Linked DNA regions of Homo sapiens: region 2 is linked to region 1. Evidence: fine-mapped expression QTL. A gene starts in region 1. The other region holds a variant in brackets. All regions are shown on one strand. Distances are from middle to middle.

Region 1 (12,162 bases):
TTCTGAGCTGTCACAGTCGCTGGGATGTACGGTACACACGCACACAAAGAGCGCATGTGCGCGAGAGAGAATATTCCAGAGCAGCAACAGCTGAACCTAAGTAGAAGGAATACAGGTGTCCAACGTATCCTTTTCCAATTTGGGGGGATGTATGTACATTTTCAAATTAAAAATCTGGGAAAAGAAAAATCACTGTATGATTAGCGTAGGGGGCAGGTCTGGATGACCAGCAATCTCAACATAAGCCAGTGACCTGGTGCCCCTCAAAAGCTACCAGTGTTTCCAGCTACACCGACTGAAATGGCGTGGGTGACAGTTAGGTCTAGGGACTTGGGTAGACCACATCCAAGTTCCTGCATTTGATTCTGAGTGCAGACGGAAAGATGGATTGTGTGAACGGAGGGCATGACCAGAGGGCCACTGACCAGTGAAGAAGCTGGACGTCATCGCAGCCTCTTGGGACAGTGTGGTCAAGGAGCAGGCAGCTGTTTCCAGCAGCAGAAGGGCTGACAAGCAGAAGGCAGGGAAGATCCGTTCTGTTTTGCTACCTGAAGGCAGAACTGATCGATGGGAGTCACAGACAAGTAGGAGTCAGCTCCCTGCGGAGCAGAACACACTAGCCATTGCTCAGCGTCCAGCACACAACAGGCTCCACCAGGCCTGTGGAGCAGCACACACCAGCCATCGCTCAGCATCTGGCATGGAATGGGCTCCGCCAGAGGCCTGCGGAGCAGCACACACCAGCCATGGCTCAGCATCTGGCACAGAACGGGCTCCGCCATCGTTTGTCAGGGATGCTAAGGACAGTGTTCTTCACGGTGGGAAAAGCAGGCCAGTGGTTCTCCAGCCCAGCTCTGCTTCAGAATCACAGGAAAGCTTATTTTAAAAAGCAGATTCTTATGCTATACTCTGGGAGAGTTTTTCCCCCAGTAAGTGGGGTAGGGCTCTGGAATCTGTTTTTTTTTTTTTTTTTTTGACAGAGTCCTGCTCTGTTGCTCAGGCTGGAGTGCACTGACGCGATCTCGGCTCACTGCAAGCTCCGCCTCCCAGGTTCACGCCATTCTCCTGCCTCAGCCTCCCGAGTAGCTGGGACTACAGGTGCCCGCCACCATGCCCGGCTGATTTTTTTTGTATTTTTAGTAGACACAGGGTTTCACCGTGTTAGCCAGGATGGTCTCGATCGCCTGACCTCGTGATCCAGCCGCCTCAGCCTCCCAAAGTGCTGGGATTACAGGCATGAACCACTGCGCCCGGCCTGTTTTTTTTCCTAACAGGTTTACTGAGATACAATTAACATACCATAAAGTTCACTTGTTTAAAACATATAATGCGATGGTTTTGGTATTTACAGAGTTGTGCAATATCACTACAATCTAACTTTAGAACATTTTCCTTAACCCCTAAATAAACCTCATCCTCATCAGCAGTCACTTCCCATCCATCCCACCCCAACTCCAAGGCCCAAGGATCCACTTTCTGTCTCTGTGGATGTGCCTACGGAATCTGTTTCTCAACACACTTCTGGGTGATTCTGCTCCTGCAGGTCCACGGTCGGGCATTCAGGAACCAGTGGACCAGACTGTTCCAAGATCCTTTCCTAGTCTAAGCTTTCATAGCCGGAACAATGAATACCGACGAAGTAGCAGGTGCTTTGCTTGGTGCTGGGGTTGTAAAAGAAATATGGTACACCCTACTCTTGAGAACCTACAGTCAGTGGGAAAAATGGAATCATAAATGACTAACTTTAATACAATGTGAGAAGCGCTCTAACAGCATGTGCATTCAAAAGAGGCCCAGGATGCAGATGAGGTGATTAATTTGCAGCCAGGAGAAGTTGGAGGGGGAAGGGAATGCTGTGTTAACTGCTTTCCATGCATTTCATGTACTGCTCATCACAATTCTGTGAGCTGGATATTAATACCACTATCATCCTCAAGTCAGAAAAAAGGAGACAGAGGCCTAGAGGGCAAAGTGGGGAGTGGCAGAGTTGGGTGTGAGCATGAGTAGTCAGGACCCTAAGACTGTGTCCCCACTCCCTATGCTAGCCTACACAATGGCCAGGGGACCTCTTAGAGTAGGGGCTGCTGAATATCCCAATCTTAGCACACAGTAGGCACTCAGTACATTTTTGCTTGATTTGGACTGAAAAGGGCCTCCCAAGTAAAGCACAAAGCCATGGAAGCAGGAAGACGTTTGTCACCTTCGGGAGTCAGCAGAGGAGCAATGCGAGTGACGCCAAGAGGCTTCCGGAGCTGTTGACTCTTATGTGAATCATGAGCCCACTGTCCATTCACACACGTATCTCTTGAAGGAAGAGTCCAGCGTCTTCCTCATGCTATCCATGGTGGGCAAAGCAACATGGTTTCTACCATCATGGAGTTTATATTCCAGTAGGGAAGACAGGCCAGTTCCATCCCAGCAAGACAAGAGGAAGCAGAGGGTTGCTACGGTCTAAATGCTGGTGTCCTCCCCAAATTCCTATGTTGAAATTATAACCCATAGGTGATGGTATTACGAGGTGGGGCCTCTAGGGAGGTGAGTGGATCACCATGTGAGAACACGGTTAAGAAGCTGGCCCTGTGCAACCTGAAAGAGCGCCGTCACCACAACCTGATTGCGCTGGCACCCTGATCTTGAGCCTCCAGCCTCCAGAACTGTGAGAAATAAATTCCTGCTGTGGGTAGGCCACCCAGTCTAAGGTATTCTATTACAGCAGCCCAAACGGACTAAGACATGGTGCTGAGGGACAAGTCCTCGTCTTGTGGGATGAGAGGGAGCTTAGTGGAGGACGTCATGTCTAAACTGAGCCCAAAGAGATGAGTAGTAGTTAGCCAGATGGAAACCCTTCCAGAAGAAACATTACTGCAAAGGTCAGGCCGCCAAATACAGCGTAGCAAACACGTGAGGGACTCACAGTGGGCTGTAGGAGGTGGGAAGAACTGAGAATAGTGGTGAGGGCTGAGCCTCCAGCGTCATATTAAATTACGCAGGGGACAGGTCATGACGGGCCTTGAAGCCATGCCAACCAGAGTGAACTTTATTCACCATGAGGTCATGAGAAGGGCACTTCAATGTTCTAAGAGGACTTGTGGGCTGGGTGTGGTGGTTCCCACCTGTAATCTCAGCACTTGGGGAGGCCAAGGTAGGAGGATCCCTTGAGCCCAGGAGCTGGAGACCACCCTGGGCAACATAGTGAGATCCTGTCTCTACAAAAAATAAAAAAATAAGCCGGGTGTAGTGGCTCACACCTGTGGTCCTAGCTACTCAGGCTAAGGTGGGAGGATCACTTGAGTCCAGGAGGTTGAGATCAGATCTTGACAGTGAGCCAAGATTATGCCACTGCACTTCAGCCTGGGCACAGAGTGGGGGAAGGGGAAAGGAAGGAAAGAGAGACAGAGAGAGGAAGGAAGGGAGGAAGGAAGGAAGGAAGGAAGGGAGGGAGGGAGGGAGGGAGGGGACTTGTTGCTTTTGAGGAAAATACTTGCTTTTTAGGAAAATTGGTCTGCTGGCAGTATGGAAAAGAAACCACTGAGGAGGAACATTTGAGCCAGGGCACCCATGAAAATGCTGCTCAGGAACCCACAGGAGTGATGGTGGCACAGCCAGGGAAGGAGCAGAGGGGAAACAGACAAGGGGACAGATTCCAGCGACATTTAAGAGGCAGAATAAAAGCGAGCTAGTGTGCAACTGGACGCGAGAGGAACGGAGGGGCCCAGGAGGATGCAGATCTCCAGCTTGGGCAACTGGGAGCGTGGTGGACAGGTCACTGAGATGAAGAACCCAAGATAACAATCAGACTTGAAGATAAAGCTCATGAGCTGATTCTTAATAGTCACAGAATTCCCTTAATTTTTGCCTTTTTTTCCCTTCCAAGACTCCCCAGACTTTTTTTTTTTTTTTTTTTTTTTGAGATGGAGTTTCGCTCTTGTTGCCGAGGCTGGAGTGCAATGGCGTGATGTTGGCTCACCGCAACCTCCGCCTCCCGGGTTCAAGCGATTCTCCCGCCTCAGCCTTCCGAGTAGCTGGGATTACAGGTATATGCCACCACACCCGTCTAATTTTGTATTTTTAGTAGAGACCGGGTTTCTCCATGTTGGTCAGGCTGGTCTCGAACTCCCGACCTCAGGTGATTCCCCCGCCTCAGCCTCCCAAAGTGCTGGGATTGCAGGCGTGAGCCACCGCGCCCGGCCAACTCCCCAGACTATTAATGACATCCTACAAAACGAGAAGCCGGGTTCTACGCTTGCACTGCTCCCTGTCCCGGAGACCGCACGCCCGAGCCCACCGAGGGGCCCGCCTCGAGCTCGGCGTCCTCCCAGGTTACCTCGAGCTCAGGGAAGCTGAGCACCACCAGGGAAGCACAAGCGCGGACACTGTCCCCTTTCACGAAGGACACGTCAACGCCCCCGACCCTCTGCAGACCCGAGAAGGCGGGGTCTCGCTGCCACGCCTCGGTGTCCCGGTCTACGACGTGGGCCTTCAGCCGAGCTTGCTCCCTAGGAGGACAGAAGCGTCAAACTTGGTCGGGGTCACACCTCAGACTCTGCCTCCTCCACCCGCGCGGCTGCAGCGGACAGAGCGCCTCTGCCGGGTCTTCTCCCGCTTCAAGGGAAAGCAAGGGACATACCGCCGAGGCCACAGTCCCTAGGAGCCCAGGCGGCGGAGACCCGCGCAAGCGCAGGCCAGACAAACTGGCCGGAAGCGAGAACCGCGCCCACCCCGCGGACTACAATTCCTGAGATCCCTCCGCTTCCGCGCCGGAAACTGGGCTTTGCTTTGGAGTCTCGGGCGGTGGCAGCTCCGATTCCACAGCCTGAAGACTATGAGCTCGGAGGGTCCGCGAAGGGCCGCCCGGCCTCGGCCCCCGCCTCCTGCGCGTCGCCTGACAGCATTACCGTTTCCACAGTGACAGCGTTTCCTCCGGCGGCCCTCCCGCCGCCTCCAGGGCCATGGCTTCGTCCCGGGCACCCCTTCCGCACGTCACTTCCGGAAGCGACTCGCTCTGACGCCGTCCGCCCTCGTTGCCATGGAGACGCTTGCGCTTTCCCGGGCCGCACTTCCCACCCGGGTCTTCAGAAGCCCGTGGCCGCTGGGTGAGCCCCTGCGTGAACGCACACGCACGCACACGGCTTCAGGTTGCCCCGCGGCGCCGCGCGCGATATCGGCTCGGATCCCGGGAGGCCGTCCGCCCCTTTTTCAGCGGATAGCTGAGGCCAGGTAAGTGACCGCGCGAGGACCCGGGAACTCCGTGACGCCCGTCCCGCCTCTGCTGTCCCCGCCGCAAGCGCTGCGCTCTGCACGGCGAGAGGGGCCTCTTGCCCTGTTGAGAGCCGGCGGGCACGGCACTTCTGCGCTTGGAAAAGGGTGGTCCAGCACTGCAGGTCCCACTCCTTGGCCCGGTCAGCGTCCGCCTTTGCTGAACCCCGAAAGGATTCACCAGGTCCAGGACAGCCCGGCAGTTGCCTCAGGAGCACTTACTGAGCGCCTGTCGTTGACGCCCCCACCTCGATGGCAGCTCAGGGGTGCCCTCAAGCTTTTGAGGGCAGGTGTCGTGTATTTAAATTCTTCACAGTTTAGCGGGCTGGACTCACGGGGGTGCTGCAGACTTGGACGGGGTTTCATCTGGGTCGGACCTTGCTGGGCAGAAAGCTTCTCCTACCAGACAAAGTACGGCGACCTTGGGGGGTCTTGGTTCTTACCTCGTGTTCCTCATTGAATGAGTGTTGGTTCAGTGCTCTCGCTGTGCCAGGTGTTGTGCGAAGTACTGTGAGGGAGAATATGTATTTATTTGTGGGGAGCCGACTTTAAACCGGTGGTTGGGAAAGGCCTGAGAGGCGATATTGAAGACACCTGAAGGGTGAGTGAAAGAGCACGGCGGGTGAGTGGAGCAGCTTTCTCGTGCAGGTCCCGGGGTGGGAAAGAGGTTGGTGTATTTGAAGCACTGAAAGGCAGCCACTGAAGCTGAAGTGTAGCAGTTTAACCCATGGTTTTATATTCTCCTGGGAGGATTCAGAAGGGTGTATGTGTGTATGTATATATAATAGCCTGAATATAAACGTCAAGGGTGTTAGGTTTTGAAGGGAAGGTGAAGGTTAAAGAATGACGCACAGTGAGATTGCCGGCGCGCGGGCGGCTCTACAGCAACACAGGTGTATTGCAAACACCTGTCGGGGGCCAGCTTAATGCCAGAGCCCACCAGCGATTACAGGCTGGGGTACTCATAGGCCTGGGCAGGAGGGATCTAGGCAGTATGGCTTGCTGTCCGGGAAGATGTTAACGTGTTCCCAGGATGAGGTGGTTCCGGCAGAATGTGGTGTTCCTGGCGCTTTGTCCCAGCAGAATATGTTAAGAGGCAGGCTGTTTCTCATGGCTCGAACCCCCGTGGAATGTTTCACTTTGACCAAGGTCTACAAAATGGAAAGGGGCTTACAAAATGACGCAGTTTGGACTAACAAAGGGGAAAATACAGAGGATGAAATTAGACTCTAGAGGTTGAGGCTCAGGAAAGGCTTCATACAGCTTTGGGAACTGACAAGGCTTTGAAAGCAGGGTCAGTTTTCAGCGAATGAGCGTCACCCACTGCACCCTGCGCACCCTGCTCCCCTGCTGCGGTGTCTTTCCCACCAGAGTGTAGCAGGACAAGCCGCAGACAAAACCCCTCAGACACCGAGTTAAAGAAGGGCTTTATTCAGCTGGGAGCTTCGGCAAGACTCACGTCTCCAACAACCGAGCTCCCCGAGTGAGCAATTCCTGTCCCTTTTAAGGGCTCACAACTCTTCAGGGGTCTGCGTGAGAGGGTCGTGATTGATTGAGCAAGCAGGGGGTACGTGACTGGGGGCTGCATGCACCCGTAATTAGAACGGAACAGAACAGGACAGGGATTTTCACGGTGCTTTTCTATATAACGTCTGTAATCTATAGATAGCATCACTGATTAGGTCAGGCGTCGATCTTTAACTACCAGGCCCAGGGTGTGGTGCAGGCTGTCTGCTTGTGGATTTCATTTCTGCCTTTTAGTTTTTACTTCTCTCTTTGGAGGCAGAAATTGGGCGTAAAACAATATGAGGGGTGGTCTCCCTTATTCTCCCTCTCTGAGAATCTCACTCAGTAGTGGGAGTTGTCACTTTTATTTTTACTACCTATGTTTTCTTGCAAGACAGATCGATAGTGATTCATATAGTACAGTTGTGCTGAAGCATTTTGGTGAACTAAGGTAGCGATGAAGCTTTTTATCATTTGAAGAAGTATGGGTAGCAAACAAGGGAGCAGAACGCAGGTTTCTATTGCTATTGTAACTCCTAATATAAGAGTTTTAAATCTTTTTAGTGCTGGGAACCATTTTCCAAACATGGCCCCAGGACCAAATCCATGCCACACTTGCACGGGCACATGTGCCAGTTTTGTCATATTTCTAACTGTGTCTTCAACTAATTGCCCTCGATCATCTATGTGTAGACAGCAATTAGTAAGGTTAAATTTTTTACAGACCTCTCCTTCAGCTGCTAGCAAGTAGTCGAGAGCCAATCTATTTTGATAGATAGCATTTCTCATCTGAGTTTCTTGCCAGGCCAGAATAGTCAAGGCTCTGCCGGTCTTATTAGTGATTATTTCTAAGACAGCTTGTAACCGTATGATTCGGTTGAGCATGTAAATGGGGGTCGGGTATCCCTAGGAGCCATCTTGTGCCTAAGTACCAGGCCCATAATATTGTATGATTCTTTCAGGGGGCCATGTATTATCTTTTGAATTTTTTATAGCTATGCTTCTCTTTTTGCGGGAAGCACAGACAGGGAAGCCCAGGAGTTCGCCTGTCTTTATGGGCAGTAGGAAGAAAGATGGTTTAATAGTGCCAATAACATGACTACCTGCCCACTGGTCGGGTAATTTGGTGTAAACTCTATGCCTACATATCCAGTATAATCCAGTGGGGGCTGTCCAGTCCCTGTGGGACTCCGGGTGGGTTCACACAGTTTGCAACTTTGGGAATTTACTAAATGGATTTTTCTTAGTGTGGTTTGAACTCCACTAGGTGGCTGTTTTTGTAGTAGTATTATACAGTTTTTGCCTAAGCAGCTGAGTCTTCCCACAGGAAAGGTGAAGTCCTTCCCCACTCTTGCTATATACAGTATTGTCTAATGATTGAGGCTTTTAGGACCCAGAAGTTATCAGGGTGATTCTTTTGAGCCGGGAATTCATCAGGAACTGGGTCTGTAGGTACTAATTCTCGGGCTTCCCGTGGCCATTGATCTCCCATTACAGTTCGTCCACACACATAACATGAAGTGACATTGAGAGACTGGGCCACATGCTCGGCTAATTGCAAAAACAAATGTCTTGTTTTTCCTGGAATTTCTGGTGCAGGCACATTCAGTTGATCATAGAAGGTTTGAAATACTGTCTCAGGAGAGCGTTTATAAATTTCTCCTCAAACCATGATATTTACTCAAGGATCCAGTTCAGCCCCATTGATTCCTAGGGTTACATGCTCCCCTTTTTTCCAGCGAGGATCAAGGGGGTTGGTTATTACTAGTTCTAAGGGGTTACACTGACCACTGGTACAGGAAGGGCCACTTTTTCCTTTTTGAAGGTGGACAGGATCCTTTTTATTTTTTATTTAAGTAGCCTAAATGACACAAGACCAGTATTTACATTTATTTCCACACAGTTTTAATTTATGACAAATGTACTTATTTTTTGTCATATGGCCTCTTTTCTAATTAAGGGAACCACATTCTATTTTTAACTTATTACTATTAATGACAGCACAGGCATCAAACTTTAAAGTGACTTGTTTGGGCACCCCTTTTTCTTTCATTTTGGCTAACACTTTACTCGTATCGTTTATGAGTCCCTACCAGTCCTCAGTCCTTAATCTTATTTCAAAAGCTGTGGTCATGGGAGACTCAGGTCATAACACACATCAGGTTGGTCATTTCTTGGGCTACATACCTTGCATAGAATAGCATTATACAAACTTTTTTTTTTTTTAGAGTCCTGGTACACTTACAATAATCATAAAATAATAGGACTGTGGCAACTTTTTGTCCTACCTCAGTGACTTGATGTATACACTGGGAACAGTCCTCAGTCTGAGGAAGGTCAGTTGAAGTCCTTACTGTACAAGTCCAAATTTTAAGGAAAATGAGTCCCACGATGAGTTTTCTCATGCTTCGGCCGTGTGTGGACCAGTCAGCTTCCAGTTGTGACTGGAGCAGGGCTTGTCGTCTTCCTCAGAGTCACTTTGCAGGGGCTGGCGAAGCTGCTTCCGTCCACGTACCACTCACAGCCTACTGATGTTCAAGGATGGTCTCGGAGGTTGCGCCTGCTAGAATAAACTGAGTCCAACACCTCTACACAGTTATGTTCAACTGGGCTCTCTCATATCAGGAGCAAGGTGGCGGGGTTTAGCGTGTTGCAAACTGCAGTGGTTATGTGGGGATTTTCACGTAGCAAGCTTTGGTACTTGGTTAATCTAGCATTTGTTAACCAGTGATGACCTTTGGTAGTCATTAAAGTTACCACAGCGTGGGGGGCCTTTATATTCAGGTTTTGTCCAAGGGTTAGTTTATCTGCTTCTTGTGCTAACAGGGCCGTTGCTGCCAGGGCCCTTAGACACGGGGGCCAGGCTTTGGAAACCCCGTCTAGTTGTTTTGAGAGATAGGCCACTGGCCTTAGCCAGGGTCCCACAGTCTGGGTTAAAACTCCAACTGCATTTTTTCTCTTTCTGACACATAGGGTGTAAAGGGTTTTGTCAGGTCTGATAGCCCCAGGGCTGGGGCCTACGTTTTTCTTTTAACTCATGAAAAGCTTGTTGCTGTTTGTTGTAATAGATGTAGTTTATCCAATTTACATTTTTATTAACTGTCATCTACCAAAATATTGACTCAAATCCTGCCGCTATTTGATTTCAAGTTTTAAATTGATCTAGTATTCCCCGTGGGACTCCAATTGCGTCTAAATGGAAATGAGAGTCGAAAGACCCATAAGGGGCTTCTCTTGCTTTACGATGTCTTATTTTTCCTCCCTCTGGTTGATGGAATGCCAGGGTGAAAGGGATAGCCAATCGGACTAAAGTACAAGCGCCACTCCAGTTATTCGGCAGAGTGCCCAGTAAAGGTCCACCACAATACCACCACACATCCGCTCACATCCACTCAGGGATGAACAAGGGCTGGCTGATTGATAGGCTCTTGAAAATTTTTAAGCTCACTGCATCCCTTCAGGTTTCCAAGGAATGCTAAGTTTCCTCCCTGTCATGAGAGACACGAAGTGAACTTAGTATTGGGAGACGGCGGCTCGATGGCCCTCGGGGGCTGACCCGCAAGGCGCCAGACTTTCGGATACAGCAGAGAGAGCTTGGCACAACTTATTACTCCAGGCTGTAGAATCCTGGAGAAGAGCTACCATGCAGCCACACCTGGTCGACTGGAGGACCACCTTAGTGGAAAGGGGACAATCAGGACCTCTGGCCTGCCATGTGCACAAGCGTAACAGTTGCTTTTGTTTAACGTGCGGATGGAATATTTGATCCATTTCAACCAGGCATTTGCATCTTGGTATGCTGTCTTAATTGCCAAAGTTTGTTTTAAGTCTTTAACTAATATGAACTTCTAGTAAAATGAATGTATGATTTTGGGAAATTACAAAAACTGGTTGGGGCAGTCCATTCTTGCTCTTTAGTGGTCCACAGAATGTTGGACCAACTACGGCATAAAAGCTCTACATTGGGGAGCAAGACTCCTGGTTGACACTGGAGTCTTTATTGAAATTCCCCCGGATTAAATGGTCCTAATTTACTAATGCCCAGTCTGAGGAGAGTCAGGAGGGACAGAAGTACTTTTCTGAAGTAGAGAGCTGTCTTCGACTTGGCAAGTCCCCACAGGGTATAACAAGACAAGCATTAAATGCAATAGTTTGAGGTGAAATTGATTTGGTTGTGTTAATAACCAGATGGTCAGCAATAGAGCGAGGAAAGAAGAAAGAGTAATAGAATAGATAAAAGAGTTAAATATTTCTTAGCTTTAGTTTGGTAGGGTTTTCCCCTTGGACTGGGGCCCACGACTCCGGAGGGGGTGGAGCTTTGACTCGGGTGTGATGAGTCCATCCCTTTTCCACTGTAGGGACAGCAGTCTCGGTGGTTAGCAGCACAAGGTCGGGTCCTTCCTAGGCTGGCTTGTTTTCTTTCCTCCCTTTGTTTTCTTTCTTTCCTTTGATAAGAAAAACTTTTCCTTTGAAAAATTTGTTTTCTTTCCTCCCTTTGATAAGAAGGTGATCTTCAGGCTGGTGCTGGTTTACTGGAAATTCTAGGGCTGGCACCTGTGCTAAAAGGCTTTTAGTTTTGAGGGAAAGGAAAGTGGAAGACAAACCAAGTATATAATTTCTAAGAAATTGATTTTTTGTTTCAAATGTGGGGACATCAAGAGTGGACTTTATAGGCTTTGGTGCCTTTTTACTGAGAAATTTCCTTTACCACCTATTTTTATTAGTTTTTGGACCAAAGAAAGCCAAACACTGTTTTATATTTAATAATGCTTTCTGTATGATTTTTATACCAGATAAGCTAAATTTCACCTTTATATTAGTGTGCTATTAATGTTAAACTTAGTTTTAATAAAACTTTGTATACATATTTATTCAATTTTTAATGTCAGACCGTAAGGTAAGATTTTTATAGACTCTTTTTAACCTTTTATAATCTTTGTTAAAGAGCAAGTTAGTGCTTTAAGAAAAACCCATTGTGTTTTTACTTTAATGTCCAGTTCACAGAAAAACTGGATGATACCCCTTTAACTTTAGCTAATACGTTTACACACAGAATTTTTTTATAATTAATGTTTTAAAACTTGCTTAAACCTTCAAAACAATTTTTTTAACCTTTTAATCTAGGTAAAAATTTACATTCTTATGCCTTCTTATAATCCTTTTACCAAAGGTATATTTACTTTTCTTATACACCTTGTGTTAGCGCCTCCGTGTGAAAAGCCCACCAAACAGGCTTTGTGTGAGCAACAAGGCTGTTTATTTCACCTGGGTGCAGGCGGGCTGATTCTGAAAAGAGTCAGCAAAGGGTGGTGGATTATCATTAGTTCTTACAGGTTTGGGGTAGGCGGTTGGGTTAGGAGCAATGTTTTGCCGGCAGGGGGTGGATCTCACAAAGTACAC
Region 2 (12,162 bases), 21 kb after region 1:
CTCTTTCTCTCTCTGCTGGTCTTTCCTTGCCTCTGCCAGCCACTTATGCTGCTGTTCTCTCAACCACTGTTGGGGCGGGCGGGTGGGGAGTCTAAAACCAGCTGTAACCAAGTGTCTGTGTACGGGAACTGGTGTGGGTACCCTGGCTTACAGGTTACCTTGTGCCATACCTTTGAAACAAGGGACCTGTCCAGGCTTCACTCTGATGGCCAACCTACCTCTAATGCTGGCCAGTCTATCTTACACAAAGTTTTAAGTTTTCCTGGTGTCATAGTACTCCATAGTCTCCCTTAAATCCTTTCCTGAAATTTTTCAGCATAGTTCCTAGTGGGGTGGTCTTACTTTGTGCTTGACCCATGCTTCTTCAAGACAAAACATTACGCTCACCCTACACGCATACCACAAAACAAAGAACAGGTAAAAAGGGCACACACACACTTTTACAGTTTACACCAAACCAAAATCAAAACCAAAATCAGAGTATCAGGATATCCAAGTCAGGTCAAAACCAAAACCAAAGTATCAAGCAATCCAAGTCAAGTCAAAAACAAAAACCAGAGTGCCAGTACAGGCACGCCGTGGGTGATCAGGCCACGCTTCCCCTCAAATGGAGTGGGCAAGTTCCAAAGACCAGTCTTACCAAGTTTCAGATGTCTGGACTCCAAGTGGCAGTTCCTTCCCGGTGTTCAGCCACTGCGTTGATCCTCCTCGGGGGCCTGCTACACACTGCTCTGGCCAGGCATTCCACTGGGGCAATTGCCTGCCTGAGAGCGCTCTCAGGATCCATGTCGCTCAAGCTGGCTGGAGTCCTCCACAGGGATGCTCCACAGGGCAGGCCTAAGCCGTCTGAGGGGCTGCCTCAACCATCCATTAATCACCTAGATTCCTGGTCAGGGAACCAAGAAATGTAGCAGGACAAGCTGCAGAGAAAACCCCTCAGACACGAGTTAAAGAAGGGCTTTATTCAGCCGGGCGCTTCGGCAAGACTCATGTCTCCAACAACTGAGCTCCCCGAGTGAGCAATTCCTGTCCCTTTTAAGGGCTCACAACTCTTAAGGGGTCTGCGTGAGAGGGTCGTGATTGATTGAGCAAGCAGGGGGTACGTGACTGGGGGCTGCATGCACCCGTAATTAGAACGGAACAGAACAGGACAGGGATTTTCACGGTGCTTTTCTATATAATGTCTGTAATCTATAGATAGCATCACTGATTAGGTCAGGCGTCGATCTTTAACTACCAGGCCCAGGGTGTGGTGCAGGCTGTCTGCTTGTGGATTTCATTTCTGCCTTTTAGTTTTTACTTCTCTCTTTGGAGGCAGAAATTGGGCGTAAGACAATATGTGGGGTGGTCTCCTCCCTTAAGAGCACTGACAGATATTTCACAGACGAGGAAACTGAAGCTTAGAGAGGTCGAGCCACTTGCCCATGGCTGTAGAACTGGCAAATGGGAGAGCCAGGACCCACATTCAGGCCTGTCTGGGCTGGGCTGTGTGTCAGCTTTGTTGGGTTCCAGAGTGGTCAGGGTGAAGGAGCCCTTGGATTTGGTAATTAGGAGTCACTCATGGACCTGTGGCGATGGGGCAAAGATCGTGGGTTCTGAGGAAGTGGCTGTCCTCTGGGTTGAGGTTCTGTTGCGCTTCAGGGCACAGGTAGCAGTGATCATGAAGGAATACTGGGGAAGGTAGGACCCTTATAGTAAGTTTAGGTGTGAGGGGAAGCACAGCAGGGCTGAAGGCGTTTTTTATGGGCTGTGGAGCACCTGAGCAGGGGCAGCCTGGTGGAGCACTTGCTGGACCCAGGGCCCCTCCAGTCTCTCCTGCTTCCCCCTGCTTTGGCCCCAGGTTGCTTTCGCATACACCCCCACCTCCTCAAAAGGGCTATCCCCAGCATATCCTGCAGAGAGGGTGATTAGGTGTGACTTCTGACCAAAGTTGCTCTGGTTGGGGGGGGGGGGTGGGGGGGAAATGCACTTTCCTGGCGCTTGTTTTTCCAGCTGGAAACGGGATTCGTAATGGTAATGGTTGAACTTAATGAACGTGATAGGATGAGAATAATGCAGAATGCAATATAAATGCTAATCATGGCTTGGATTGTTACTCAGCTCGAGGCTCAGGTTTTCTCCAGCCACCTCCCCAGTTATGCAACCTTCACACTTTATGTATCAAATCAGAGGTGTTTTCCTTCAGCACACTAGTGCCTGTGTGCATGGCTAGACTTGGGTGGCTTTACCTACTTGGCCCTGAGCTGACATTTTCTTCCCAATATTTATCACTGGAAGTTTGTTTCTAAATTGGAATTGCCTGAACATACAGGAGTAACTGAAATAGCTCAGGGCCGTCTCGGTTAACACATGCACAAAGTCTCATAACTATTCATGAAAGGCAAATAATTTGCACACACAATAAGGTCCTTATTTTATTTTTTTTTGAGACAGGGTCTCACTCTGTCACCCAGGTTGGAGTGCAGTGGTGCAATCATAGCTCACTGCAGCCTCAAACTCCCAGGCTCAAGCAATCCTCATACCTCAGCCTCCCAGGTAGCTGGGATTACAGGTGTGCACACCTAATTTTTTCAGTCAGGTCTCAAAGAGAAGGAGATAATGATCAGTTGTGAAGATTTTCAGGTAAATCACCACCAAGGTAGGGCTGAAAGCAGAAAGAACTCTGCAGCAGGGAACTGTCCAGGGAGGCGGGTATGAGTGGGAGTGAGGATGAATAAAGGGTTGGGAGGGGGAAGGTCAGGGTTGGTGATGAGGCATCCATGGCGGAAACGGGAACTGCAGGGTGAGGTGAGGCTGGCGCAGGGCAGACAAAGTGAGTCTTCCGGTGCAGGCCAGCATGCCTCCTCTTCTTGCTGTGGTTCTAGACCACAGGTTTCTCGCCTGGAAGAACCTTTCCTTTTTGGAAGAGAAAATGCAGTTTTCCCCCTGAAGGGGCATTTTTAGCACTCCAACGTCAGTGGGCTCCTGGAAGGGTTACTGTTTATCTCTTACCCCGCAAGTGGACTCAGGGGTGAAGTTAGTTAGCTCCTACCTGTACCCCGTTAGCTGCAGCCCCGCTGTGTCCAGTGAAGTCATTTCAGGCAGGGCATGGGGGACTCCTTCTGAGGCAGAGGTGTAAGCGTTTCAGTCCCAGATCGGCTACAGGGAGTGGCGCTCAGCTCCACTGTGGAGTCGCCAGGATGCTGTCATTTTGTCCAGAGGAAAAGTCCACCGTCTCACATGTGAAGGCAGAGCCTGTTTTCTGTGTGCACAGTCTGAACACACTACTTCATGGGTGCTTCTAAAGGACATTTCCACAAAGAACACAAACGATTCCCAAAAGCCTAGCTGATGTCTATGTGCCATAAATAGAAGCTCTGCCCCCAGAGAGAAGAGTTCTTTAGCAGCAAAACTCCAGTTTATTAAGACAGGTGTGACAAGTAAAATAAAATTCATTTTTTTTTTTTTTGCCTCTGCTAGGCCAGTATATTTCTGTACAAACAAGATAATGCAAGATTTGACAGTTAAGGCTTTGAAGCACAGCACACAAAATGAAACAATTTAAAACCCCTTCATAAAAATGGGAAAAATTCCCAGGCCAAAGGAAAAAAAAAGCCTTCACAGAAAGAGACTGACACTCGACTCCCCCCCTGCTGAGGTGTGGCCAGTGAGTCTGGGTGTGAGCTGCCACCTGACAGCCAGCTCTGAGGTATCAAAGGAGCTCCGAGTGCAAGTTGAAGACTTCAGCAAGCCAGCCCCCGGCCCCCACACCCGTTCATAGGCAGTCGGAATGCAGATCTCGGTGGCAGGTGGCTCTGCACAGTCCAGAGTGATAAAACAATCACAGATGACTAAATGCCAGGGACTGTGTGAAGTCAGTTACTGCCTGCAGTCTGGGTCACTCTGCCCTTCATCAGACACTGGTGGCACCATGACAGTGAGGAGAACGGAGCACAGTTCCTTCCGTGCCTCCTGCCGGCGCTGCTCAAGGTGTGCATGGCTGAGTCCTGGACAAGCATTTTGTATTTTTGTAGTTCTCACTCCTTAGGCCCAATTTCAAGTTAAGTCGTTAACTCATTTAGAATGAATATTAAGGATACTGCCTCTAACATATCAATAGCTGTGCTGAGCTGTCTAGGAAGAGAAATTAGTCCAGAGAGGTCCTAAGTATCAAAGCAGATTTTGTAAAGAAAAAAGGCAACACGTCAGTGAGAAAAGCAGCACAAGATCCGGGCTCGGGGACTCTTTTCCCTCTTTCCGAAACATAACTGGTTTTGTATGTGCTCTGAGTCCTAGTTTTTATGTCTTGGCTGAGAACCACAGAAAGGACTAGATATTCATACATGCGAGAGCACACTGAGACTGCATGTTTATTTGGCATAATGCTAGAAAAAAGTCCGCAAAGAACTGCCAGAACCAGGCCTGTGACCAAGTTTACAGTCATCTAGTTTCTCTCACAATTTCAAAATGTCAGATCAGAAGAATCTTTGGCGATTAATCCACTCTCCATTTTATGCGTGAGAAAACCAAGGCCCTGATGGTGTCCCTGGTCCAAGTCCAGTGCCTTTCACAATGAGGCTTTTGGCTCTTACCCTCTGAAGTGGGGCAGTGGCTCACTGTGAGGGGAGAGGGTCAGATCTTGTTAGTTTGATCTTAAGGCACTCACAAAATGCCCTGATTTTTCTTGTCTTTGTGAGAAGACAAAAAACAGTCTGGTAGTTTTTCACATCATCGTGGGAACCCAGAAATATATGTACAGTACTCAGAATTTAAGGGAATGGAAGAAAGAAGAAAATGAGATTCTCTTTTGTGAGTACAGAATTAGAAGAAAAAAAAAAAGAGGGGTGGGCAGTGCCAGAGGCGAACGGGCACAGGTCATTACTGCGTGTGTGGCTGAGCTACAAGTCTCCTGGAATGTAAACAATGTTGGTTTATTTCCAATTTCATCTAATCTTCATTGTCATCTCTCAATGAACAGTACTCATAAAATGATGAGAAAGTTTCAGAACATGTATGTACATGGTTCAGAAACAGCTCGGCTTTCAAAAAGCTGTCAGCTCAGGTAGCACGCCTTGGTCTTGAATTCGGTGCTACGCTGACAGCTCTCCTTCTGAATGCAAAGGCACCAGTCCATGATCAAGTCCACGCCGCAGACGAGGAGAGAGGAGTCTTCTCTCCAAAGTCATCCAAAGATAGCTGAGGAAATAATTCTATCTCATTTCTCGATTCCATTTCAGCACAGCAGCTGTTTTCCACACTGAGACACAGCTGGCGAGCAGTATCTCTTCTGGGAACTGAGATGCCATTTCAGGAAGAATTTCACTTTCTTTAGTTTGCATGTAACTTACGAGAGTGTCTCTCAGGCTGAAAAACCAAAGAAGAGAGCATTTAAAACAGTCTCCTCAGCATGGTGGCTCACGTGTGTAAGCCCAGCACTGTGTGGCTCACGTGTGTAAGCCCAGCACTGTGGGAGGCTGAGGTGGGTGGGTCAGTGGAGGTCAGGAGTTCAAGACCAGCCTGGGCAACATGGCGAAACCCTGTCTCTAGCAAAAATACAAAAATTAGCTGGGCACGTGGTGGTGTATGCCTATAGTCCGAAGCTACTCAGGAGGCTGAGGTGGGAGGACCACTTGAGTCCAGGAGGTGGAGGCTACAGCGAGCTGAGATTGCACAACTGCACTCCAGCCTGGGCCACAGTGAGATCCTGTCTCAAAAAAAAAGGCTCCCATATAACATAAGGGGACCAATCAGTCCCCTCATGTTACTTTTTCCCGTTGTCATCAGCAGAACCAAAATGCTCGTTAAGACTTAAAATCCTAGGCCAGGCGCAGTGGCTCACGCCTATAATCCTAGCACTTTGGGAGGCTGAGGCAGGTGGATCACTTGAAGTCAGGAGTTCGAGACCAGCCTAGCCAACATGGAGAAACCCTGTCTCTAGTAAAAATACAAAAATTAGCCAGGCATGGCGGTGGGTGCCTGTAATCCCAGCTACTCGGGAGGCTGAGGCAGGAAAATCACTTGAACCCAGGAGGTGGAGCTTGCAGTGAGCCGAGATTGCACCACTGCACTCCAGCCTGGGCGACAGAGCGAGAAAAAAAAAAAACCCAGAAATCCTGAGGAGCAGTTTAAGGTCAATGACCTGAGCTCCTGAACTGGGACTAGCATCCTGGGTTCAAGGCTCTGGTGCCTGACTGCTGCTTCCCACATGCAGTACACAAACACGACAGAAGCCCACGGAGCAAGCCCTGTGCTGGCCCCTTCACATGACTTTAGGCCCTCTAGCAAGGTGATGTTTATTTACAGGGTTGCATAAACAAGGCCTCACCATTCAAAAAACCTTGTATTCTATTACATGTTTCACATTAACAAAGACTGGAAATTCTCTAGGAAAGGGATCTTTTTTATCTACATGAAAAGCACAGGCTAGTAAAGACTTGTTGAAAAAGTTGAAAGAACATAAATGTATATGGTATATGCCACATAGCATAATGGAGGAAGATAGCAAATAGGAAACATATTGGTGAGGAAGACTGGAGTTTGATGATCTAGTCAGGAAAACATCAAGTTAAATCCTTACTTTACACCTAAACATAAACTGGTGAATAAAACAAGT[A/T]TGTGAAAGCACAAGAAGAGAGAGGACAGGCCGGGCGCAGTGGCTCACGCCTGTAATCCTAGCACTTTGGGAGGCCGAGACGGGCAGATCACTTGAGGTCAGGAGATCGAGACCAGCCTGGTCAACATGGTGAAACCCGTCTCTACTAAAAGTACAAAAAAATTAGCCGGGCAGGTGCATGCCTGTAGTCCCAGCTACTCGGGAGGCTGAGGCAGGAGAATCGCTTGAACCCAGGAGGCAGAGGTTGCAGTGAGCTAAGATGACACCATTGCACTCTAGCCTGGATGACACAGCAAGACTCCATCTCAAAAAAAAAAAAAAAAAAAAAAAAAAAAGGCTAGTTTATAATCCTGGGATAAGGAAGATCCTAGTAAGTGTTTTTGTATAGAGACCCTTTATAGGAAAATTCTGTCAGATTTGACTTCATAAAATTAAAGGCTGAAATAGAGCACTGTGGCACACGGCAGAGAAGATGAACCCCTGTTCTATGCAAAGAGCTCTCACAACCATTACAGAGACAAAGCGCAAAAGAAAAAGATACGAAGAGGTAATTTAGGCTGGGTGTGGTGGCCAAAGCTTGTGAATCACTTGAGGTCAGGAGCTCGAGACCAGCCTGGCCACGTGGAGAAACCCCGTCTCTGTACTAAAATAGAAAAAATTAGCTGGGCGTGATGGTTGGCACCTGTAATCCCAGCTACTAGGGAGGCTAAGGCAGGAGAATCGATTGAACCCAGAAGGCAGCGGTTGCACTAAGCCAAGATTGCGCCACTGCACTCCAGCTTGGGTGGGAGTGAGACACGGTCTCAAAAAATAAAACATAAAGGCAATTCAGAGGATGATATACAAATGGGTGATAAATATAAAAAACATGTTCAGCCTCACGGTAAATGGGGAAATACAACTGAAAATGAGATACCATTTTGGCCTTTAGATTGGCAACTATGTAAAAGATGGATAATATCCAATGTTGAGTATTCTCATACACTCTTTATACATTGGTATAGCTTTTTCTATTCTTTTTTTTGTTTGTTTTTGAGATGAAGTCTCCCTCTGTTGCCCAGGCTGGAGTGCAGTGGTGCGATCTCAGCTCACTGCAATCTCCACCTCCCAGGTTAAAGCAATTCTCCTGCCTCAGCCTCCTGAGTAGGTGGGACTGCAGGTGTGTACCACCATGCCTGGCTAATTTTTGTATTTTTAGTAGAAACAGAGTTTCACCAGTTGGCCAGGCTGGTCTTGAACTCCTGACCTCAGGTGATCCACCCACCTCGGCCTCCCAAAGTGCTGGGATTACAGGGTAAGCCTCCACACCCGGCCTAGGATAGCTTTTTCTATCAAATTTAAAATGTACCTCTCTTTGACATAGTCTACTTGTTATAAAATTAGAATATATGACTTTTAGGCTGGGTGTAGTGGCTCACGCCTTTTCATTCTAGCACTTTGAGAGGCCAAAGCGGGCAGATCATTTCAGGCCAGGAGTTCGAGACCAGCCTGGCCAACACAGTGAAACTCTGTCTCTACTAAAAATACAAAAATTAGCCAGGCATGGTGGTACACGCCTGTAGTCCCAGCTATTTGGGAAGCTGAGGCATGAGACTCGCTTGAACCTGGGAGGCAGAGGTTGCAGTGAGCCAAGGTTGCAGTGAGTTGAGATTACTCCACTGCACTCCAGCCTGGGTAACAGGGCAAGACTCTTGTCTGAAAAACACTTGTGTAATTGCTTAAAGAAAACCCAGTAGAGATTAAAACCAAAAAGCCAGTCCTCAGGTGCCCTGGTAATGACAAAAAGCAGGAAATGGGATTCTGTGGTAAGAAAAGAACTATTTTTGTGTCTATAGAAGATCACAGGAGAGACAGCACAACATTGTGTCTGCCCCGCCCCATAGGTGTGCAAATCCATACCTCCACTGAGGGCGGAAGCGCTCCTCGGTTTGGGTTTGGGGGTTCTTTAGTTTCAAGATTATCATTTCGTGCAGCTCTAGCAGGAAGGCGTCTAGGCCAGTCTGATTTAGGAATGTGCTGAGGAGCTTAGCATTTTCCGGGCTCAGATCCGCTTTGTACCTTGAACTGATTTCCCCAAATGGCTCCTAAAACGACGGAAGAGCAAATGAAGCATTAAAGCCTGCAGGGAGAAGGGAGCGCAGTCCCTCTGTCCAGCAGAGAGGAAGAGACCAGACTTACTTTGTGCAGCCGCAGCAGCTGTTCAGACTTATGAGCAGACAGGAACTGCCAGAGGGCAATGGTGTGTTTTAACTGGCATCTGTTTAAGGCCTGCAGAAGGAATAGAATTCCTGAGTGGGGGCTGAGGTCTCACACCCCCACTCATGTCGTGCACCAGGGAGCCTGAGTGCTCTCCACACAGGCATTCTTCTCTTCGTTCTGCCCTGTACTAATGTGATCTCCCTCCTTGTGAAGGCCATCTCTGTCCTATCTACCAGTTCCCTCCTGCGGCACCTCACAGCCCGCTCACATCACGCTGTTTGCAGGGGCCTCATGTACTCAGTCACATTTGGGCTCTATCTAGACTGCTGGCATTTCTAGCGCGTGTCTGTCTCTACTGTCCCTGGTGTGTCCTGTTTATGCTGGACTGACTGGGTGAGCAGTTGTTCTTGTCTCCCCATCCTTTTCAGGAGCGCCTAGAGTGGCACTCCCTGAATGCTCCTATCCCTCGCGGGAAGCAGGAGACCAGGGTGAGGGGCTGTGCTGATTTCCTTTTCGGTGTGAGACCCACCTTTAACACGTGAATCGTCTGATCACCCATTTGCAGGATGTCTTGAGTATACACATTCAGCTGCATGTTTGGATCCCCACCAGCTGTGCTCAGAAACCCCAGAGTGACTTCTACGACAGACAGCACTTCACAGGCATCGCTGTAGGACTGCAGCTGTCCACTGATGGCACTAATGACCGAGCTGGGGAGGGAGTCCTGGGAAATGAAAAGCAGGAGAGGGATGTCTGTGGGCTGGGTTTCTGGCATCTCACCACCTGGTAAGAGAGCCGAGCCCCTTCACTGCCCAAGCCACATGCGGGGGGCCAACTCTCTAACAGCTGACACTTGGGCGCACGGTGTGCAGGCAGTTCCTGGAGGCCATGGAGACACACAGGTCTACCTATCAGTACCCGCATGCGGAGAGCAGGAACAAATCGGTTCCATGGACTTCCCGCTTCAGCAGGCATGGCCATGCATCAACATCATTCCTAAGAATCAAACCCACAAGATGTCAATCTGCTTTTACTCTACAAGAAAACTTGCTGATTTGCTGTCTTGCTTGCTCTCTGTAAGGGAGGCCGCAGAAACTGTGGGCTCACAGCAAACACCCGGGGCAAGGCTGGAGTAGGCCTAACACGGAGGGAAACACACTGAGAAGGCAGAAAGCCCCGTGCACAGGATCAGGTTTATCGGGATCACCTGTGCCATTTTGTTCTTGATGTCCATAAAGAGATGTTCATAGTTCCAGTCGTGTCTGTACACCAGAGTGGGTATTCCCTAAATTGGGAAAGAAAAAAGTTTTTTAAAATTAAATCCATCGTGGACATTTCCAGCAGATGACAAACAGAATCTGCAGCCGGAAAACTGCAGCGTAGTGCCGCGCTGCCCTGTGTATCCCTTGGCTAAGAGCGCCCCTCTCCGTCATTAACCCACCATCTATGGAAATAGTAACACAACCGGGAATCCAGCGGAGTCCTCACAGCCAATTACATGACAAGATATTGTCACATCATCGTGGCCTGCTTCGCCACAGGAGGCGCTAGGGCAACAGGTATTTGTGCATATCCCATTCATTTATTCATTCAGCCACTAAAGGCACAGACCATGCACAGGCAGTCACTCTGCCAGAGGAAATGGCTGTGAGAATGAATTAAAAACAGCCTTTGGGAGGCAGAGACGGGCAGATCACGAAGTCAAGAGATCGAGACCATCCTGGCTAACATGGTGAAACCCCGTCTCTACTAAAAATACAAAAAAATTAGCCGGGCATGGTGGCGGGCGCCTGTAGTCCCAGCTACTCGGGAGGCTGCGGCAGGAGAATGGCATGAGTGAACCCGGGAGGTGGAGCTTGCAGCAAGCTGAGATTGCGCCACTGCAATCCAGCCTGGGTGACAGAGCGAGACTCCGTCTCAAAAAAAAAAAAAAAAAAAAAAAATCCATGGGCTCTCACAGTTCCTGGCCCAGTTGCGGGTGGTACCGTACATAAGTACAGTAGATATGACTGCAGCTGGAAGGAACAAGTGCGTCCAGTCAAAGAACAGAGATGGGAAAGTGCCTGCTGTGTGGCTTCAGTGCATGAGGTCACGGGATGCAGTTCAGGGAAATGGGCTAAGTGGCTGGAGGCAGGGCTGGAAGGTTGGGCTGGGCCGAGCTACAGGGCCTCCCATACCAGACAACAGAGTGTCGGCTTTATCCCATATGCCATGAGAGGCCAGGCAGGTCCATCCGGCACAGGATGAAGAGAGCCAGATGTGGGTTTTAGGCCGTGGACTGAAGAACCTGGAGGTGGGCACCAGTTAGGAGTGGCTAGCAGTCCAACGTACAGGATGCTTTTAACTACAGGGTGGGCTTTGGCAGTCAGGTGAGGACACACAGAAGGCACAGCTAATGGCATCTGCTGGCAGGTTACCCATGGAGGCTGAAGGAAGAGGGGCTGTGGGGGTGGTGGTGCCATTAACTGGTAGAATCAAGACCTCAACAATCAGCTGGGTGCAGTGGCTCACGCCTATAATCCCAGCACTTTGGGAGGCCTAGGCGGGTGGATCCCTTGATCCCAAGAGTTCGAGACCAGCCGGGCAACGTGGTGAAGCCCCATCTCTACCAAAAAATACACAAATTAGCTGGGCATGGTGGTGCACACTTGTGATCTCAGCTATTTGGGAAGCTGATGTGAGAGGATCGCTTGAGCCCAGAGGTGGAGGCTTGGCACCACTGCCCTGCAGCCTCGGTGACAGAGTGAGACCCTGTTTCAAAAAAAGACCTCAACAGTTCCTTGGGGGACTGAGGTGCAGATGGCCCTGCAGGAGAGGGCTCAGGAGAGCCCTGCGGCCCGGAGATACAGGTGGCGTGGTGGCCTCGGGAGCTGCAGGTGTGAGGGAGGAGATACAGACCAGACTGCAGGGTGAGGTGCTGCTTCCCTCTCTCGAGAAACACACCAAGGGCTGCTTGTTCACAACAGACACACCAAATGAGCAGCAGTGGCAGGAGTCAGCCCTACCTTGAGGCTCAGCCGGGGCTTGCCCTGGAGGAAGCGGCTGACGATCTGCCGCTGAATCTTCTCCAGATCGAACTCCTGCACGGTCTCTCTGCCCTCCTCCACCTGGTACTGGCAGTTGGAGAGAATCAGTGGAGTCAGGTCCCGCTCCACTTCATAACTGATGACATGCAGTTCAGTGACCTCGGCGGCATCCACGGAATAGCTGAGGGGCAGAAAGACAGCGCTCAGCGTCCAGGCCAGGCATGCGGGCCTAGGGCTCTATGTTGCAGGGAGCAGGCTCCCATTTCTCACAGTTGGAGCAGTGGAAAACCCTACCCAAGTATGGGGCGGGTCACTGGTGGGGGCGGCTGAAGGAGTGAGTGTCTG

Alleles and levels. Alleles are on the strand shown, and positions count from the first base shown. SD is a standard deviation of normalised expression in the study named.
For the expression in unexposed skin of the gene that starts at base 4,979 in region 1, allele T in region 2 goes with a lower level than allele A (small effect, 0.16 SD a copy in GTEx).

The links. PIP is the estimated chance that this variant, and not a neighbour inherited with it, causes the effect.
Region 2: its variant is fine-mapped to the expression of ENDOV in unexposed skin (GTEx, PIP 0.96).

The regions. Positions count from the first base shown.
Region 1 is chr17:80,407,984-80,420,145 of GRCh38, reverse strand. ENDOV (endonuclease V) reads right to left here and starts at 4,979. Exons shown (of 10, transcript NM_173627.5): 1 at 4,896-4,979; 2 at 4,325-4,496. The coding sequence starts at 4,951. It overlaps RNF213-AS1 (RNF213 antisense RNA 1), which reads left to right and starts at 4,978. Exons shown (of 2, transcript NR_029376.1): 1 at 4,978-5,217. MIR4730 (microRNA 4730) reads right to left here and starts at 728; the gene lies at 653-728. RefSeq lists an enhancer at 4,457-4,546.
Region 2 is chr17:80,386,526-80,398,687 of GRCh38, reverse strand. It overlaps RNF213 (ring finger protein 213), which reads right to left. Exons shown (of 68, transcript NM_001256071.3): 63 at 11,797-11,998; 64 at 9,999-10,076; 65 at 9,321-9,515; 66 at 8,771-8,860; 67 at 8,492-8,676; 68 at 1-5,343. The coding sequence ends at 5,190. The region is part of intron 1 of RNF213-AS1 (RNF213 antisense RNA 1); the gene reads left to right. Among named protein-coding and RNA genes, the nearest start is that of ENDOV, 23 kb to the left of the region's middle. RefSeq lists enhancers at 258-764, 765-1,272, 2,918-3,419. The variant A/T (reference allele first, on the strand shown) is at 6,593.